Homo sapiens: one gene and its partners. The protein of the gene in region 3 interacts with the protein of the main gene of each other region in a pairwise test. Each region holds a gene or a part of one and is shown on either strand. Other genes may lie near its edges.

Region 1 (7,032 bases), on a different chromosome or scaffold from region 3:
TCTTCCCTCTCCCCCTCAGCCTCCTTCCCGCCCTTGCCCTGCTGTTTCCTTCCAGCAGCTCCGCGGGGAGGAGGGGAATGGGCTTGCTCTCTCTCCGGCGATTACTAACTTTTGCATCGCCCCTGTTTTGTCTTTCTCTCCCTGTCCCCTTCCCGCCCTCTGCAGACCATGGTGAATCCGGGCAGCAGCTCGCAGCCGCCCCCGGTGACGGCCGGCTCCCTCTCCTGGAAGCGGTGCGCAGGCTGCGGGGGCAAGATTGCGGACCGCTTTCTGCTCTATGCCATGGACAGCTATTGGCACAGCCGGTGCCTCAAGTGCTCCTGCTGCCAGGCGCAGCTGGGCGACATCGGCACGTCCTGTTACACCAAAAGTGGCATGATCCTTTGCAGAAATGACTACATTAGGTAAGACTTTGCTGTCTTTCCTGGAGATGGGGGGAAGAGCAATGGCAAGGCCAAAGGTTAACAGGGTTGTGAGGAAAGGAGTAGGCGTCTACGGGGAGTATGCAGCCTTCACCTCAAAAATCTTCTAGTTGGCGGAATTTAAGGGGTTCAGGAAGCATGTGTTAGTCTTCCAATATCTGATGGCAAATTCATGGCAAATGCCATACTAAGTAAAGACCATCTGGTGGGACTGGGTCATTAGATGTGCAAAGGTTGAGCACCCTCTGGTCCTAGAGTTTAAGTAAGTGGTCAGCCTCTACTGGACTTCAGGCTAAAAGCAAACATCCCAAGCGGGAGTTAAGCTGCGTTCTTAAAACAAGGTAGGAACTCACAGAGGAACCCAGAAACAAAGGTTGACTTAAAAATACAAGTGTAGTTAGTGAGAAATGATTTGTCTATGGCGATGGCTTATTAACGATATTTACATAAGCATCTTGAAACTTTTTTGAGCGGAAGGCTGTGATTCGTTCTTTGTGCTCCTTGAGAAAAATGCTAATTATCCATCAGTTTAAAGACTTGTAATTCTTCTTATAGAGAAAAAAAAAGTCCCAAGAAATAAAACCTGGTGGTAATGTTTCTCTTCATACTGTTACTCGGAGGCTTGCAATAATTCAGTTAGTGTGTGGTTTGCGATGTAGAATTTGCAGTTTTTTTCAATTGAAGCATGTTCAGGTTTTGGGTTTTTTGTTGTCGTTTGTATCACTGCCCTTGATCCCCAAAAGAGATTTAGAAAAAGGCTATAGAATTATACTAATCTTGCATTTTAAAGCAATGTATAGGAACATTCATATGTCCATGTAAGCAGTCTTTTCCAACAAGTTGCAGTGCAATTAATGGAAAGAATTCAGGAGGTCAGGTGCCTATAGGATCTTTTCAGGTGAACTCAAGCTACTTAAACTCATTAATTTGAAAGGAGGCATTTGAAGGATTACACATTTAATTTGAGTAAATGGTTTGATAGACTGATGCACATGAATGCTTCTAGGAGGTGTTCTGTTTCAACATCCAGTAATTAAAAAAAAAACCCACACGCACACAGTTGATACTAGAAAACCGCACACTTTTAAGAATTTCATCCTATGTAAATTTGTCCTAAACCTTTTTCTTTAAAGTGATTAGTAGAAAATTTTTTTCTTTCTTCAGTGTGGGTAAATCAGTGGATGAACTATTTTGTTCAAAGTTTAGCTCCATTGTGATTCGCCTTATCCTGCGACTAACATTGTAAAAGATCCCAGTGCAGTTCCGAGCTGAGTGTGGATATGTTTACCCCAGTGATATCATTAGTGTAAGATGATGGAGTAAAATGACATTTAGTTATTTTGATAATGCAACCTGTGTCGATTCTGCTGGCATCCTCAATCAGTCCAAGTAAAAGAAATACAGGAAGGGAGAGGGCTTTTATTTTTAAATTAAGATGGCAGCATTAATTTCACTAAGTGTTCTTTTAGAAGTAAATGTTGGAAAATCAGCAGGAACATGGGTGTAATGCTTTCTGGTCCTCCTTCCAAGTAATGCCATGAGCTTTGACGGTGCTGTAATTAAATAGAAAGCAAAACTGTGGTAAGAAAGGAGTGTGGTTTGAAGTGGAAAAATTGACAGTGCTGTTAAGATTCCGTGAATGGTACAGATTCATCTCTTCTCCGAGTGCCTTCAAAAAAAAAAAAACAAAAAACAAAAAAAACCCTCGCTTCTGATTACAACTAATTAAAAAGAAGATGGGTCCGCTTGTATTCCCCCAGGACAAGTTTAGGCAAGTGGCTTCCTGGGAATTGTGTCCATTCTTTTCTCTATTCTTGGGGCCAAATGTAAATGGCCTTTTGGTGTTTTCCTGTGCCCTAATGGAGCAATGGAGGATGTGTGCCCAGCCCTGAGCCTTAATTAATGGCATCTACGTTCTTACTTCCTTTTTTCCCTCTGAATCTGGAAACTGGAGCCAGGCTCGCTCTTGAACTACATGCTACCCCGAGGACCTTAGATCTTTCTAGGAGAGATGAGTTCTAGCTCAGTACGAAATTGATGGCCTCACACTTAGCTCAGGGCTCACCAGCAGCTGAGCGCCCCTTCCCCTCCAATTTAAGAGATTACTGAAGTCTTCCTTCAGTGTTCCTCTCTCAGCCCATCAGGATGTCCAAAGGGTGGGAAGGTGCAGACGTTGCTGTTCCTCTCAGCTACCCCCTCTCCAATGTCCCTCAAGTCCACTTGTTGGAGGAGCTTTCAATGCCGCAGGGACCGCTGCAGAAGAGTGGAGTAATCTGCTCGCCCGCCGCCAGGTGAAGGGGACCCCTTGGTCCGACTGAGACCACATAGCGATTTACTGAGGGGCTTTTAAACTGTCTTGACTTTGAGTTGTGGTTTTTTGAAAACAACCAAGGTCTTGCTAAAAAGCTGCGGGAGAGCTGGGAAAGGCCGGCCTGAGCGCGGGGGAGGGGGCTGCAAGATGAGGGGGCGCTTTCACCAGTCCCCTCCCCCTCCGCGGCCAAGTGTCGATGGGCAGAGCTGGGCTTCTGCCTCCTCTCCCTCCAAGATTTCAGATAAAGCGGCTGCCTTGCTGCAGCGAATCCGCACAATTAAAAGCTTTAATTAGTGGCTCCTCCATTTTCTTAGTTCTGATGGGCTTTATCTAATGAGATCTGGTCTCTGGCTTAGATCTGCTCCGAATGACGTGTCCGCAATGAATGAGAGCTGCGTCGCAAACAAAACATTTAATTAACAAAATTGGCCTCTAAGAGAGGGAGGGAAAGAATGAAGGGGGGGGGGTTGTAGAGCGGAGGGGGAGGGTGGATCTTAAAGGGACCAACGCCTGCCTGGCCCCCCCATCTTACAAAAATAGGGGAACCTTGGGACTGCCCCTTCCCCCACCCCCGGCTCCCGACCCCTCAGCTCCACCCAAGCGCCCCAAGTAGCTTCGGAAACTCCGTTTCTCTTCCTCGAACCGTCTTTCCTCCACCCCCACCTCGGGCCCGAAGACTGGCGCGGAAAGTGCAGCGAGAGGAGGAAGTTCGGAGACCGGCGGGTGGGGCTCCAGGTCCGGGGAGGGCGAGGAAACGCGCCGGAAGCCAGGGTGGCGGTCGTCGGCTGGCCCTCGCTCCCTAGGCGGCCAGCACCCGGGCCGGCGCCGCCCGAGGCCGCAGCCAGAGCGCCCAGCCGGCGGGCGGTCTCGGGCCCACGAGGGGGCGAGCGCAGGGCGGGAGCCGGGCGAGCGGGTCGCGCTTTCTTTCCCCGGGCTCCACTCGGGCGGTTCACGTGGCGCCCGCAGCCGCAGTGAGCCCGGCGCGGCCGGGGGTGGGGGCCTGGGGCGAGGGTGGGGAGAATTGGTAGTTGGTGGTGGAGGGTGTGTTTGGGTAGGGGGTGGCGTTAGGAATGGAGGCGCCGCCAGACAGCGAGTTCATTTCCCTGGTAATCAACAGCAAGCTGCTATATTCAGAGAATGCTGTCCCTTTAATTGAACAGGCTAGGTAATTAAATGGCACTTTTCCAATAGGACGTGCTAGGTAAATCTAATAGTTGGTTATTTAATATCACTTTGAAGTCTGCCCACTCAAGCACAATGACAGCACAGGAGCATGTGAACTATTAGCTAGAAAAAAAAAAAAAACAGGATCTCAAAAATTAATTAAATCGCATGCAATTTAGGGGGAACGTTTATCTTGATTTGTCATAACAGAATTAATTCAAGGCCTCCAATTCACTTGGGGGCAGATCTGTTACTCTGAATTAACCAAGCGTAATTTGGCTGATTTTTTTTTTCCTATTATGCACAGCCCCCCTCTTAAGTATCAATAGCTTCTGGTGCTTTTAAGGTGCCTGGTCTCTAGTTTTTCCGAAGTACCTTTAATGGACTTGGCTCCAGGCATAATTTCTGGGTTGCATTTCTTTGTTACATTTAATATAGCTGGTGCAGAATTTAGATTAAATATAGGAACCTGCTGGAAAACCAATTGCTTCTGGATCAGTAGCTGTGGATGTGCTTTTTTCTCCTCAGATAGGTTGCTGATATTTACTTGCAGGTACAAATGTATATACCTTTCAGCCACACTCTCAGAAACGTACCTCTCCTTGCCCAAAAGCAGTTTAGAAAACACAGCCAGGTAGCGTTTCATATTGCATGTATTTTGCTTGAAGTAATAATGCAGTTGAAAATAAGCCCACCTATTGGTCATTGAAGTTACTGAAAGATGCTAAGCATTGATAGTAAACTAAAAATACGATTTGCCCTCCATCTCTTAATGCCAGCAAGGAGAGCTGGAGCTCAGCGGGCAAACAGGAATAAAACTACATGGTGTTGTTCAAACAGGAGCAAAGCACCTTTAAAGTGCAGTGGTTTGGTGGGATTTCTTCCCATCTTTTCCGTTTTCCCTGTATAAGGAACCTCTTGATGTTTGTGATTGATTGCATTGCCCAAATGCTGAAATATTAACGACCTTCTTGGACTGAGGACCCAAAGAAAGGAAACTGAAACCGATTCTGTCATCACAATTAAAGACTCCCCTGGCTTTAATTAGCCTGACCTGGGGTATATCTCCCCGTTGCTTGAGTTAAAGAGAAAAGAGCCCATTATAGTCCAGTCTGAGACCGATAGCTACTTAATTGAGCACCTAAAGCCTCGAGCCTTTTAAATCAAACACTGTCCGGACAGTCCCCCTGGTTAGATAATTAACTCTCCAGCGCACAGAAACGTTGTGAAAAAACACACACACACACGCACACACAACTTTTCAGAAAAAGGGTGGAATTCTAATGGTAGCCTTCCTCTCTGGTAAAAGGGGATTAGAATGTGTATAGACACGTAAGTTATTCTGCTCTGAGGCAGCCTTAAAGCTGTAGGCATGGAAAGATCTTAAACTCCATTGATACGTTGTTCAATAGCACATCAGTCCTGGGTAGATCTTGGTCATTTCAAACTTTGTAACTGTAATTTTTGGCACTTCAGGAATCCCACCATTTTGTGGCTGATTGTTCTCTGAAAGGTTATGATAGCAGCCCTGGAAAAAAATAAGATCTATGAAAGGCTTTTGGATTACATATGAACTGCCCTGATTATTAAAATACACTTCGATGTTGAAGACTTACAACTGACTTTACTCAGGGTGAATTGTTAAATAAATGAACACTTAGGCTGAGTAATCAGATGGGTACTGTGAAAAGGGTATTTTTGAGATGGAGTGTCACTGTGTACCTGTTGGTAGTGGCAACCATAATTATAGATTCTTATCCATTAAAATACTTCAGGGTTGCTGTAAGAGGATATTTGTTCTTTAGCCTTGTTAGGATTCTGTCACCCCCTTCTACCCCCATTACCTGTCTTCTCTTATCCTCAGCATGTATTTGGCCACATGGACTGGTTTTTAACTTTATTTTTACCCAAATTGTTTGAATTTGGTATCCCTTTTGGGGGTTGGAATAGCACTACTGCCGTCCATAAATGCTTTCCTCAGGGCCATGCCCATTCTCTGGCTACCTTCCCCTTCTGAGAACTCCCCTGCGGCAGTGGTACTGCAGGTGAGACACCGGGAGGTCCTCATCAGTGTTCCTGAAGTGTCCAGCATTAGGAGACAGCAGCCCAGAGGCCCCCCAAGCTCCCACATGGTGTGGTCCTGCAGCTAGAGGTCCTGACAGTGTATTATTTCAGCTTTCTTTCTGTAACTGTTCTGATTCTGCAAGAACGTGTCAATGTGTCGTGGATCTCAGACTAATTAGTTTTGAAATGGAGTTTTGATTGAACTCTTCAAATCGATGCTGCTGCAAAATTTGTTTCTCGGGCTTCCTATTAAAAGCCATCTTAAGGGGCAGTTTTACTACTCTCCCTGTCGTTCAGTCAATACATTTAATAACAACTTACAGGCTATTTTCAATAAAGTGGCGACAGCAAATTAGTAGTTTGAACATGACAAGCCTCTTCTGCAAGACCAGATTCTGAAAACTCAAAGCAATTATTTTTATATAGAGGCATGCTGCAATCATTCAGATTATGGGGTGTTCTATAGGAATATGTCTCCTGGTTTGACACAGACTGCATTTTATGACTTTATTTGGACAAGGAGGAAATGCAAATGTTAATATTTATTATGACACCAATATGTTAATTTGTAAGTCCTCTTACTTTGTTTTTCGTTTTTGAAAACTACCTCTCTGATTCTGCTTACTTGTTCCGACACCACCTTTCAATGTGAAATCATTTTGGTCTGTTTAATAAATATTTGTGGATATTAAAGAGGGAAGCCCAAAAGCAAATAAAGCTTCCCAGGTTGAGTCTACAGATTGCATAAAAGCCCAAGTTCGGTGGTTATTAAAATATTTTGTTGTGCTTGCAGAAGGATGTAAGGAATTATGTATATGTTTTTCTTCAGTACACCACAATTCCTTGAGCTTTCCCCTCCTCTGCAGCCTTTTCCTTCTCCCCCTCCTCCCCCCATGGCAGATGTTGTGGTCTCATTTGATTGCATAGGAAAACTGCAGTGATACAGCAAACACCCAGAGAGATATGATGACAAATGGGTCCAGATCCCGGTAAATTACTTTCTGCTCAAATCGAAATTTCATTCAGTTTGTTGCTAGCAGAGATGAAGTAATCTAAATTGTGGACTCAGGA
Region 2 (4,546 bases), on a different chromosome or scaffold from region 3:
GCTCTTTAAATTTTTTTTTTAATCAGTTTAAGAATGCTTTCTCTTTTATTGGCAGTACCTGCTTGTTTACTATTGAGATTTCACTAATGTGCCTCAGTCTTATTCTGATGATATGTAGGCCGAAAAGCTGGTGAGCCAAAAATGAGAACCTGTTACTAAACTGTCATCACATCTGATCATATTAAGATGTCACTCAGAGGTTGCCATTGGTACGGCTGAAAATTCTCCAAGAGACCAAAGGTGTGGTGTGTATGGGACCAACAAGATATTGTTACTGCTTAATTGTCCAGCAAGGGAGGAAAGTAGAGTGAGTACCCATGAGCACCAAGCATGAATCTGAGAAGGAGAATTTGCCAAAGGTGGACGATTGATTTTTGGAGTAGAGAAGGTCGTCTTTGCTTTCGGGTGCCCCTCCTGTGTACTGTGTTCTACAAAGCCAGAGCCACTTGTGATGGAATTTAGATGGTAAATCACCCCAAGCCTAGTGGCAAAGGAATCAAAGCCATCTCCTGATAAAAAGTTAGGCTTTTCAAAAAGGTATGGCTCTCAGCATTGTAGCCAAATGTAGGTTGGCATGAAATGAAGCCAGTTGTAATTGCCTTTAGATTCCGTGGAAGGAAAAGGTAGGTCCCCAGCTCCTGCAACAATGGCATTCTGAATCAATGGGACTGCAGAATTTCTTAGCAAAAATACCATTCCAGTAATGCAAGAGTGCAACGTGGTATCATTACAGTAGGTCATAGTGGCAAAATATTTTATCAGGTTAGGAAGAATTCTGCTTTTTGCTTTCCCAAACGGACTGCTTTGGTCTTTCCTCACGCTTGGCAGAACAGTGAAAGGCCAGTCTGTCATGACGTTTGAATGCTGAATAGTATAACCATTGTGGCATAGAGGGCGGGAGGCTGGACTTGAAATGGGTGAGCTGGATTCTCCCACCACTCGGGAGTTAATGGCAAGTCACTTGGCCACTCTGGTCGTTTTGGCAGCTGCAAGGTAAAATGAAAATATATGACAGATATCTGGAAGTTGATACAAAACACCATCTCCACCAGAACTCTAAGATTCCAGGCCAAAATAATACTTGGCTTGAGTTAGCTGGATGAGCATCTCAATTCTCCAATTTGTCTTTAGAGGCACTTCTGCTTCCCTTTTCCCCACATGGGATGCAGAAGAGCCAGATAAACCCCTTGAAGTTGTTTAGATAAATGTGCCAGGTGCTAAGCTCAGGGTTATTAGGAATAATAATTCAGTGAAAGGAAATTTGGATGACATGAACTCATTTCCATTAGACTTGAGCCACACAAATCAATGGGAAAAGAAACAGCTGAATCCAGGATAATATCTGGCTATTTGGAGTGGGCATGATAATGGAGGGAGATTGGGGAGGTAACAAACCAGCTACTATTAAGTTCAAGTCATGTCAGTTATTCAAATTCAGGACCAGTGGAACTTGTCCAGTATCATCAAGCAGCCAGTTATTATCAAAACCCAAGTCTTTGTCTCACTCACGGTCCACACCCCGCCCAGAGTCGTATCACTTGACTGCATTTGACCATTCAGTTTTCAGACCAACTCCATTGTTACTAGATATCCTGACACTGAAGAAGCTAAAACCAAACAACAATGACAACAACAAACCCAAGTCTGCCTTATGGCAGATTCTTCACGTCGTAACACCTTCCTTGGGACCCTATTTCTCAGTATGGACCTGACTCTCCCAGGGATCCTAGAATGCAAGCATAGTGATTGCAAACCAGACCATTTGAGGGAAACTCCTCCAGTAAGCACCCTGCATGGTCACAATGTAAACCCTGCAGGGGCAGAAAAATGATAAGCTTTGGGTCGGGTCGGAAAGCCATTTCCCCCACAATCAAAGTTCCTTAGTGTTTTCCTTGTGGGGGCGAGCTTATCTTCAGTTACCTTTTCCGGTCCTCTCTTGCAACCCCTCTCCCTCTCATCAGCTGAAAATTAGTGGATGCAGCTAGGGCTCTGAAACACATAAATAATCATAAGATGCCAGATAAACTGTATTGGTTTTAAATTAGAGACGTGCCGACCATGTCTCCCTCTGAACAGCAGCCTATTATTTTTAATTATGGCTTGCAAAGCAAAGTGATTTCTTGCCCTCTTTATAGCATCCCTGACAGTATTCTGTCAGTTTGGATGATATGATGCCTCATCACTGCACACGTCCCTAGCCACAGCCGCAACTGTTACTCAAAAGGTGAATGAAAGTGATCAGCTGCACTCTTTGCAACTTACATTTTGAAGTGGGCTGGGAGGAAATGTACCCCCTTACCTGTGGTCCCATTGTAAATCTGGGTCAAATATGACATTTAGAAAAAGGTTTTCATGGGATCTGGATGAATTAATGTGTTATGTGTTTGTGCTAAGTATGAATGTATGGTGAGGAGTGTGTGTGTGTGTGTGTGTGTGCATTAAATGTTTTAACACAACATTGCCAACCCTTCCCCTAGCAGCACCGTGGGCAAAGCATAAAGGGATGATCTGGCAGCAGCCCCACTTGGGTTTTCTACCTGATGGACCACAATTAAGAGTGGTTGGTTTGTCAGACAGAAGGTTCTACAAACGATTTGGTATCGAATTACATTATACATGGAGAAGTTGAGGGGTTGGATGAATTTGTTCTTGCACGTTCAGAAGGATACCATCTTTTTCTCTGTGTGGAAGAGGCGCCTGCCACGACGTATTGATATGTGTATTTATTTTCCAAGCCTGTCCCTGTATGAGGTGTCAAAAGTTACACCAGCTTTACAAGCGGAGTTTATGAACTCGTTTTTCCAGGATAGTCACATTATACTTTTTACAGTCATGTGCTTTCAGCCCAGTACCCTTTGCTATGCCAAGATCCAGCTGAAACTGAACCAGGTGGGGGAGGCCTGCTAATGCCCAGGCAGTCGAAATGACGCCATCTCATCACTCCTTTTCTTAAAATTTTTTTTTGTCTTTCTTCTTGGATTTCCAGCAACAGGGAGCTGCCACCACCGTGTACTGTGCTGCTGTCCCAGAACTGGAGGGTCTGGGAGGGATGTACTTCAACAACTGCTGCCGCTGCATGCCCTCACCAGAAGCTCAGAGCGAAGAGACGGCCCGGACCCTGTGGGCGCTCAGCGAGAGGCTGATCCAAGAACGGCTTGGCAGCCAGTCCGGCTAAGTGGAGCTCAGAGCGGATGGGCACACACACCCGCCCTGTGTGTGTCCCCTCACGCAAGTGCCAGGGCTGGGCCCCTTCCAAATGTCCCTCCAACACAGATCCGCAAGAGTAAAGGAAATAAGAGCAGTCACAACAGAGTGAAAAATCTTAAGTACCAATGGGAAGCAGGGAATTCCTGGGGTAAAGTATCACTTTTCTGGGGCTGGGCTAGGCATAGGTCTCTTTGCTTTCTGGTGGTGGCCTGTTTGAAAGTAAAAACCTGCTTGGTGTGTAGGTTCCGTATCTCCCTGGAGAAGCACCAGCAATTCTCTTTCTTTTACTGTTATAGAATAGCCTGAGGTCCCCTCGTCCCATCCAGCTACCACCACGGCCACCACTGCAGCCGGGGGCTGGCCTTCTCCTACTTAGGGAAGAAAAAGCAAGTGTTCACTGCTCCTTGCTGCATTGATCCAGGAGATAATTGTTTCATTCATCCTGACCAAGACTGAGCCAGCTTAGCAACTGCTGGGGAGACAAATCTCAGAACCTTGTCCCAGCCAGTGAGGATGACAGTGACACCCAGAGGGAGTAGAATACGCAGAACTACCAGGTGGCAAAGTACTTGTCATAGACTCCTTTGCTAATGCTATGCAAAAAATTCTTTAGAGATTATAACAAATTTTTCAAATCATTCCTTAGATACCTTGAAAGGCAGGAAGGGAAGCGTATATACTTAAGAATACACAGGATATTTTGGGGGGCAGAGAATAAAACGTTAGTTAATCCCTTTGTCTGTCAATCACAGTCTCAGTTCTCTTGCTTTCACATTGTACTTAAACCTCCTGCTGTGCCTCGCATCCTATGCTTAATAAAAGAACATGCTTGAATATCATCACCTGAAGTTTGTATTGTTTCTTTAAATGTTTGTTTCAGTTTGTTTTTGTTTTTCATTTTTTAGAAAAGAAATCTAGAGGAAAAATAAAGCGCTTCTAATAAAGCGCTTCTCGTAGATGCCAGGAAAACACGATTCTTGTTTCTTCTCTGAGTGAGTTTGTGTTTTGTTTTTGTGCTTTGTGGCTGTCCGTGGGCCAAGTTGTCTCACGCGATTAGCATGCCAGCATATTTTCTGTTAAAGAAAGAAAAAAGAAAAATGACTATTGTTTCATTTCACCTTAAGATGTTTTGTTATTACTTACTTACAGTGAGTTATTTTAGTCCTCAATGGTCTGCTCCCCTGCAATTAGCAAGTACTTAGTGATTAGCGGGTATCTCTATGTTTGAGAATGGGAGCTGTGCAGAAGCTCTTATCTGCGCATCCCATCTCATGGACACCATGATTTCCAGCCCGTTCCAGCAAGCACATGAGAAAGTCCACTCTGGCAAGACGGAGAA
Region 3 (7,169 bases):
GCCTTGGGGAAGTGATTAATTCATGAGGGCTCCACTCATGAATGGGATCAGTGCCCTTATAAAAGAAGCTTGAGATAACTCCCTTGCCCTTATGGCATGTCAGGACACAGGAAGAAAGTGCCATCAGTGAGGAGCAAGCCCTCACCAAACACTGAATTTGCTGACACCTTGATCTTAGGCTTCCCAGCCTCCAGAACCATGAGCAACAAATATCTATTGTTTAAAATTACCCAGTCTAAGGTATTTTAGCAGCCCTAACAGACTAAGACAGAAGTGCAGAGGGAGGTGTTGAAGAAGGAGGGGCTCCTAACAGCTCTACAGAACACCCTGGTCTACCCTGGGATTCTGTAGTCTTCAGACCCAGTATGTTTCCCTCACCTCATGTTTCTCTGCTTCTGTTGATTTCAGGTTGAGTCTGAGACTTGCTAATATTGGTCTTAATTGATATTTCCTACATTAAAACAGTCAGGTTCTTAAAGCCCAAGACATACAGCCCCAGGCATTTGCTTTTAAAGCTCAGTCCTATAAATATTTAACCTGGTAGAATCAGAATCCGTGTCAGGGACAGATCAACAGATAGGACATGGGTGTGGCCTTACCCACAGAGACCAGAAGCCTGAAGGTGTCCAGCATTACATCACGGTACAGGGTCCTCTGGGCAGGCTTCAGCTGCCCCCACTCCTCCTGGCTGAAGCCCACTACCACGTCCTCAAACGTCACTTGCTCCTGAAACATCACACGAGTGTCCTCAGCCAAGCCAACCCTGGCACTGGCTGCTGGTGGGGTAGCTGGTAAATGCCAGCCAGGCTGGGTCGGATGGAGTTCCCTTTGGTCTGGGGTTTTGGGTCAGGTTTTTCTGTGGGGCCTGGATGGGTGCCCTGCTGATGAGGTGGAGGATCTTAGAATCTAAGGCATCATGCCCGTTTCCAATAATTTGTCTCTTGAAATAAGAAATGGAGGGAGCCAGCAATAAAGGAGTGGACCAGCCCAGCATGGTGTCGCATGCCCGTGGTCCCAGCTGCTTAACAGGCTGAGGTGGGAGGATCACTTGAGCACGTAAGTTTGAAGCACAGTGAGCCATGATTGCATCACTGCACTTCAGCCTAGGGGATAAACAAAGTTATAAAGCTAGTAGCAGAAGTCTAAAGACTGAATCTGGGTGGTTTTTTTTTTCCCCCGAGACGGAGTCTCGCTTTGTCGCCCAGGCTAGAGTGCAGTGGCATGATCTTGGCTCACTGCAAGCTCCGCCTCCTGGGTTCACGCCATTCTCCTGCCTCAGCCTCTCGAGTAGCTGGGACTACAGGCGCCCGCCACCCCCCCGGCTAATTTTTTTTTGTATTTTTAGTAGAGACGGGGTTTCACCGTGTTCGCCAGGATGGTCTCGATCTCCTGACCTCGTGATCCGCCCACCTCGGCCTCCCAAAGTGCTGGGATTACAGGTGCGAGCCACCGCGCCCGGCCAAATCTGGGTTTGTTTTTTAATTTTTTAGAGACAGGGTTCCACTGTCATTCAGGCTGGAGTGCAGTGGCACATCATGGCTCACTGCAGCCTCCAACTCCTGGGCTCAAGCAATCCTCCCCCATAGCTGGGATTACAGCTACAAGCCATCGCACCAGTCCCCTTGTACGGGTTTTCTGACATTCCTACAGGAGGCTGGTTTCTTCTGGTGGCTTATGGGTGGGGTTAATGTCATCATAAAAAGGCGAGTTCCGCCCCCTTGGCCTCCATGACGTCTGAGGAAGCGGCACTCGATGCGCCATCTTGGAGCGCAGAGCATGCTAAGGCCTTCAACTTCAGACTGCAGAGCCGGGGCACCTACAATTTTCTGACATCACCCAGCCTCAGGTATGCAATGACGGCCGCACAAACATAAAGCCCACTCAGACAGGGACCCGTGCCCGCTGACCTCCAGCGCGGCGTGGGCGGTCCTTTCAGAGGCAGGCTGTGGTTGGGGAGCTTGGCGCGGACTTTAGGAGGCCGGGTGTGCAGGTAGAGGCCGGACACGAGTAGAGGCTAGATGTGCAAATAGAGGCCGGGCACGAGTAGAGGCCGGGCACCAGTAGAGGCCAGGTGCGCGAGTAGAGGCCAGTTGTGCGAGTAGAGGCCGGGCACGAGTAGGGGCCGGGCACGCAAGTAGGGGCCGGGCACAAGGAGGAGGCTGAGCGCGAGTAGGGACGGGGTGCAAAGAGGAGGCCGGGCGTGAGAAGGCCGCGCGCGAGGAGGCCGGGCACGAGGTGGAGGACACGCGCAAGGAGGCCGAGATTCTCACCGGGTCTGTGGAGACGCGCACCCCAGGGGTCATGCCCTGGCTTCTGGCAGGAACGGCTGGCCCTGCTCTGTGGGAAAGGGGAGGTGAGCAGCTGGGGCAGGCAGAGGCGGTGCTCAGGTCCCCAAGCCGGGGAACTGCGCCAGAGCCTGGGGAGCTCCGCGGAGAGCCGTCCAGGGCCCCGCGTACCCGTTTAAGCGCCTGCTGTGTGTGGGGCGGCCCTCCGCTCGGAGAAGGGCAGCCTAGGGTTTTCCCGCCTGTCTGAGGGAAGCTGAAGGCCTGGCGGGTGCGGACACATATCTGCTGCGCAGACTCTGAGCCTTAACGCTACAGTGACAAGGGCCGGGTGGTTGCGGTCCCCTGGCCCTGGGCACTATGCCTCAGTTTCTCTCTTCCATCAACAAAGGTGGCGGCCCAGTGCCCGGTGTGGGGCAGAGGTGGGGCCAGGGGCGGGGCGCGCGTTCCCTCAGGGGCCGTCGGAGCAGCTCCTGTCCAGCTGGGCGTTGGGCCCCGCCCTCCTCTCAGACTAGGGATGCCCCGCAAAGCCTGCCCCCGCCAGCCCCGAAACGGCCTTCCCCAGGCCCCGGGCAGCAAAACGGACTCCACACAGACGCGCGCTGCTGGAAACTCGCCCCGCCAGGGCCTCAGGAAGATCCCCGGACCCCCCGCACCCGGCCCGGCCCGGCCCGGCCTGGCCTCCCCTCCCCCTCCTCGCCGGCCTAGCTCACCCTCCTGACTGCGAGACAAAGGCCGCGGCACCGGCAGCCGACACTGCGCCGGCGCGAGCCTAACTCCATTTCCCAGAGAGCCGCGCGCGCATTTCCGGCCGCCCTCCCCCACCTCGCTCTCGCCCTTGGCGTTCGTGAGCTCTCAGTGCTGCTGGAGCTGGAGTGACTGGGCCTGGTGAAACAGGGCGCGCGGGGTGCCTGGGCATCAACGCGGGATAAGTGCCGCTTGGAACGCCGTGAGCTCCCGGCGCGACCACACGGGCTTTCGTGTTGGAAACTCTACCGTCAGTTTTACTGCTGCAAACAAAGCAATGATTTTTTCAAAACACATACTTTCAACCAAAACATTCACCAAGATCGCACACACGGGAGTCTTTGCATTTTCCACACTGAGGCAGCCATGGAGACTTCACACTGTATTTATTACATGGTTATAAGGAACATCACGTGCAAGACACTAACAATTATGACGACTTTGGACATTGCTAGGTAATTGTCAAAATTGTGCATTTGAACAGCAGCAAAATATTCAAAGCTGGTGTGCCCTCGCTGACACGAAATGAATTGTCATTTTCTGAACATTCACCAAAGCCTGCCAGGCGCTAGGCCTAGGTTCAGCAGCACACAATAGTGAAGCCCCCATTCAAGCGGGCTTCGTTTCACCAGCGTACGTCACACGTCCGTGGAGCAGCGAGACCAGAGGAGCTGGGAAAGCCAGGGCTGAGCCTTGTGCTTTTGCCCTTTTAAGGGAGGACAGATTAATTCCAATCAGCCTGGGCTTGGGAGCTGTATTTGAAGCAGAGGAAAAGTTTTAAGACGGGCATTTTTTTTTCTTTGACTGAAACAACTCTGAAAACAGCAGAGAACACAATACGAATTCTCGTACCACACACAGACACTTGCAAAGATTTGGCTGGTTAACACACAAGTTAAGACTTTAAATTTCATAAGCCCTAAAACAGTGGCAATTATGAAGAGATATAATGGCTCAAAATCATAATGCACTGATGTAAACAAAGCAAAGGCAAGCTTCTTGGCTTTTAAGGGCGTCCTGTACATTCCAAGTACTGTAAAGCCCCACATTTGTGACCGTCGCACTGAAAGCCAGCCTGCTTTTCACTCTACAGCAGTAAAGAGGCTTTCCATTATACATAAAATGCCGTTTTTCAGTTCTCGAACTCACAAACCCAAATGCCACAAAACATCTTTTTGTGTATTTTTTCTTTCACAAAATGTATACTCTTGCCCCCCACCCCCACCCCCAACCGTTTCCTTTTACTGGATCAAAAGGTATGAACACACAACTCATGGTGAAGTCTTTTTCCCAAGCGGTCTGATAGTCCTGGTGAGAAGCTGTCAGTGGTGCCACACTGAGCCTGCTCAGCCCTGATGGTGGCCAGGCGGCCCTGCCCAGCTCCCTCAAACTTGCCCCTCTGTTTCCTCCCTCAGACCTTCTGATCCTCTGTTTTTCTCAGCCAGGTTTCTAAACCGTACATGCTTTTGCAGGGGCGGGCTCTTTCTACAGGGGCAAGTGCTGCTTGGCTCCAGCCAAGTGGGGTCGTGCGGACTGGCAAGCCCAGCGTCCCAGGTCTGGATTTCTCTAAAGAACCCAGAGATCAGGATTTCTATGTGAAATCTCTTGATTTTTAAAAGCTGGTAGGGATTTCAAAGGCTTTAATAACACTCTACCAGTCAAATAAGATGAGCTGGAGGCTACTCCAGTGCCACCCTTGCTGTGGTCTGAACCTCCTGCTGTCTCTTGTAACCACTGGCTGGGCCCCTCTCAGCTCCTTCTTGGCTTCCTGTACGAATCTCCAAGCAGAGCATTGCTGGTTGCCTCTCTGTGGCCTGGAACAGGACCCCCCACCATGAGCAGGTGGGCTGCACATCAGTACAGCTTCCAAGCAATCCTGCAATCACAGCATGGATAGCAGAACTGTGTCATGCTGTATGTTAATGTTCAAAAAGTTAATCTGTTCAACACATACATTTAAAATATACTGTAACAGTTACAGCTCCCTGGACATATTTCTCCCTTTAAAAAAAAAATCTTTTTGACAGCTTCAAAACCTGGCAGTGTCCAGGCCTCCTCTGACCCAAGAGACCCTGGCTGCCAGGGAGAAAGGTGGCGTCTGAGACTCCGGTCTTCCAGAGCGTGAAGTGCCCAGGGCTGGGCTCACAGCTCCTGTGACAAGGGCTGGAGGACAGGAGACTGGGGCACATCGTGATGGGGGTGTTGGAGTCTTTGGGGGGTGCTGGCAGAGGAAGGCACAGGGCAAGGGAGGCGTGCTGAGGTGCTGGGGCTTCCACAGCTGGGGTGAACCCAAAGAGAAGAGAGGGGCTAGTGCTCTGTCTCACTGCAGCTCGGGCAGGGGCTTGGGACTGGGCAAGTTAGGTGAAGAACACCACGTGGTGGCTTTCGTGAGTTGCAGCAGCTGCCACAACTGGTCCAGCACCCTGGGCCAAGTCCTTGCTTCTGTCAGCCAAGGTGTAGCACGTGAGAGTGGCCCTCCAGGACCCTGGGCCACGTCCTTGCTTCTGTCAGCCAAGGTGGAGCACACAAGAGTGGCCCTCCAGGATCCTGGGCCACGTCCTTGCTTCCGTCAGCCAAGGTGGAGCACACAAGAGTGGCCCTCCAGGACCCTGGGCCACGTCCTTGCTTCTGTCAGCCAAGGTGGCGCACACAGGAGTGGCCCTCCAGGATCCTGGGCCACGTCCTTGCTTCCGTCAGCCAAGGTGGAGCGCATTGAGAGTGGCCCTCAAGGGGTGGCCCACCTCCCCTCAGAGGTCGAGGGAGGCTTCCCCGGCTGGAAACTGCAGCCCACAATGGTGTCCCGGTGTCTCCACAGGGACTTCCCCTCACTCATTGAGTCACTCATCCCTTCACTCTGTAGGACCTGTTGTATGCTGGGTGTGGTCAAGTATGGCAGTGGAGACTGTTCTAGGCACAGGAGGAGGCCAGGGTGAGAGGCAGTGTGGAGTCAGGTGGAGACACAGTGAGTTAAGGACACCAGCCTCCACCATCCCAGTGCTGGGGGCTGTGGAGGCAGCAGGGCCACAAAGGACACTATAGAGCTACCCTGCTGGGCTTTGTCTTTTCAGTGTCTGCATTTTAGAGGGACCCTGTTGGCTGCAGGATGGGGATGGGGCAGAGGGAACGGGCTGGAGGCAGAGTTTGCTTAGAGGCAGCTGCAGGCATTCAAGAAATGGGGAGAGAGCCTGGGGCTGATGGTGCAGAGGAGAAAAGAGAACTGAGAGGGATTGGGAGCTGGGTTCCCAGGGCAATCAAAAATCCTTGTGGGGCCTTGGAAGGTGGTGGTCCCTCTGAGGGGAGTGGGAACCCCAGAGGGGAGGCAGTTTGCGTTGTTTTCTTTGTTGTTGTTTTTTGTTTTTGCACAAGGGAAGATGAGTTATTTGGACAAACTCAATTGGAGAACTGAGGGACACCAGATGGATGTCTCTGGGGCCAGCCCAGGTAGGCTGGAGCCTGACTGATGCCTCGTGTTCAATGGCACCCACTTTCTTGTGCAACTCTGGCACCAACAAACTGAGCTGTGATTGTGCCTCCAGCAGGTGGAGACCGAGATGGAAACAGCATGGAATGAGCCCCTGGCTCCCAACAAGTGGGGGCACTCGGGAGAGCTATCTCTACACATCCCGTTGTCTGAGACGATCAATCTGCGCCTGAGAGAAGGCTCAGGGGGGCTTCCGAGAGTAATGGGCTGACTGCGGGGCCAAGACCCCACCCTCCATCCTGAGCTCTGTAGAAGAAGCTCCTCCTTTGCAGGATGAGAGAGAAGGTGCCAGGAGGGGAGCTGGAGCCCACCAGCAATTAAGGCATAGGATAGAGCCAGGAGCCCCCAGTGGGGACTGCAGGGAAAAGCTGGGGATGCCTGAGGGAGCCGGGAAGCAAGGTCCGGAGGCGCGGTTAGGGGGCGCTCCGAGAAGGCAAGCGTGAGAAGGCAAGCGCGGCAGCGAGGATGAAGTGAAGGCAGCGGTGGGTCCGTGGGACCTGCACAGCCCGAGAGGGCCATCGGGGACAGAGGCCGAGAGTGGGGGCAGCTTGGTTGAGAAGCAGCAGCAGGCGGATGTGACGTGGGTAAGTCCAAAGGCTTTTGATTTAGAAGGCGACTTGGAAAAATGTCTCTGCCTGTGCGGATTCACAGTCAGCCCA

The links. Proteins that work in one complex are often made in the same cells at the same time.
Region 1: the proteins of ZNF135 (region 3) and LMO4 interact in binary tests that used the Homo sapiens proteins (3 or more experiments, as listed by UniProt).
Region 2: the proteins of ZNF135 (region 3) and WWOX interact in binary tests that used the Homo sapiens proteins (3 or more experiments, as listed by UniProt).

What each region holds. Positions count from the first base shown.
Region 1 is NC_000001.11:87,331,848-87,338,879, forward strand, and holds part of LMO4 (LIM domain transcription factor LMO4), read left to right. Parts: intron 1-165; 5' UTR 166-168; coding exon 169-404; intron 405-7,032. UniProt on the Homo sapiens protein: Transcription cofactor. Plays a role in establishing motor neuron identity, in concert with MNX1, acting, at least in part, to disrupt LDB1-LHX3 complexes thereby negatively modulating interneuron genes in motor neurons.
Region 2 is NC_000016.10:79,208,622-79,213,167, forward strand, and holds the end of WWOX (WW domain-containing oxidoreductase), read left to right. Parts: exon of another isoform or gene 1-2,986; coding exon 2,987-3,175; 3' UTR 3,176-4,046; downstream 4,047-4,546. UniProt on the Homo sapiens protein: Putative oxidoreductase. Acts as a tumor suppressor and plays a role in apoptosis. Required for normal bone development. May function synergistically with p53/TP53 to control genotoxic stress-induced cell death.
Region 3 is NC_000019.10:58,055,137-58,062,305, reverse strand, and holds the start of ZNF135 (zinc finger protein 135), read right to left. Parts: upstream 2,457-7,169; intron 2,338-2,456; 5' UTR 2,304-2,337; coding exon 2,271-2,303; exon of another isoform or gene 1,908-2,270; intron 727-1,907; coding exon 600-726; intron 1-599. UniProt on the Homo sapiens protein: Plays a role in the regulation of cell morphology and cytoskeletal organization. May be involved in transcriptional regulation.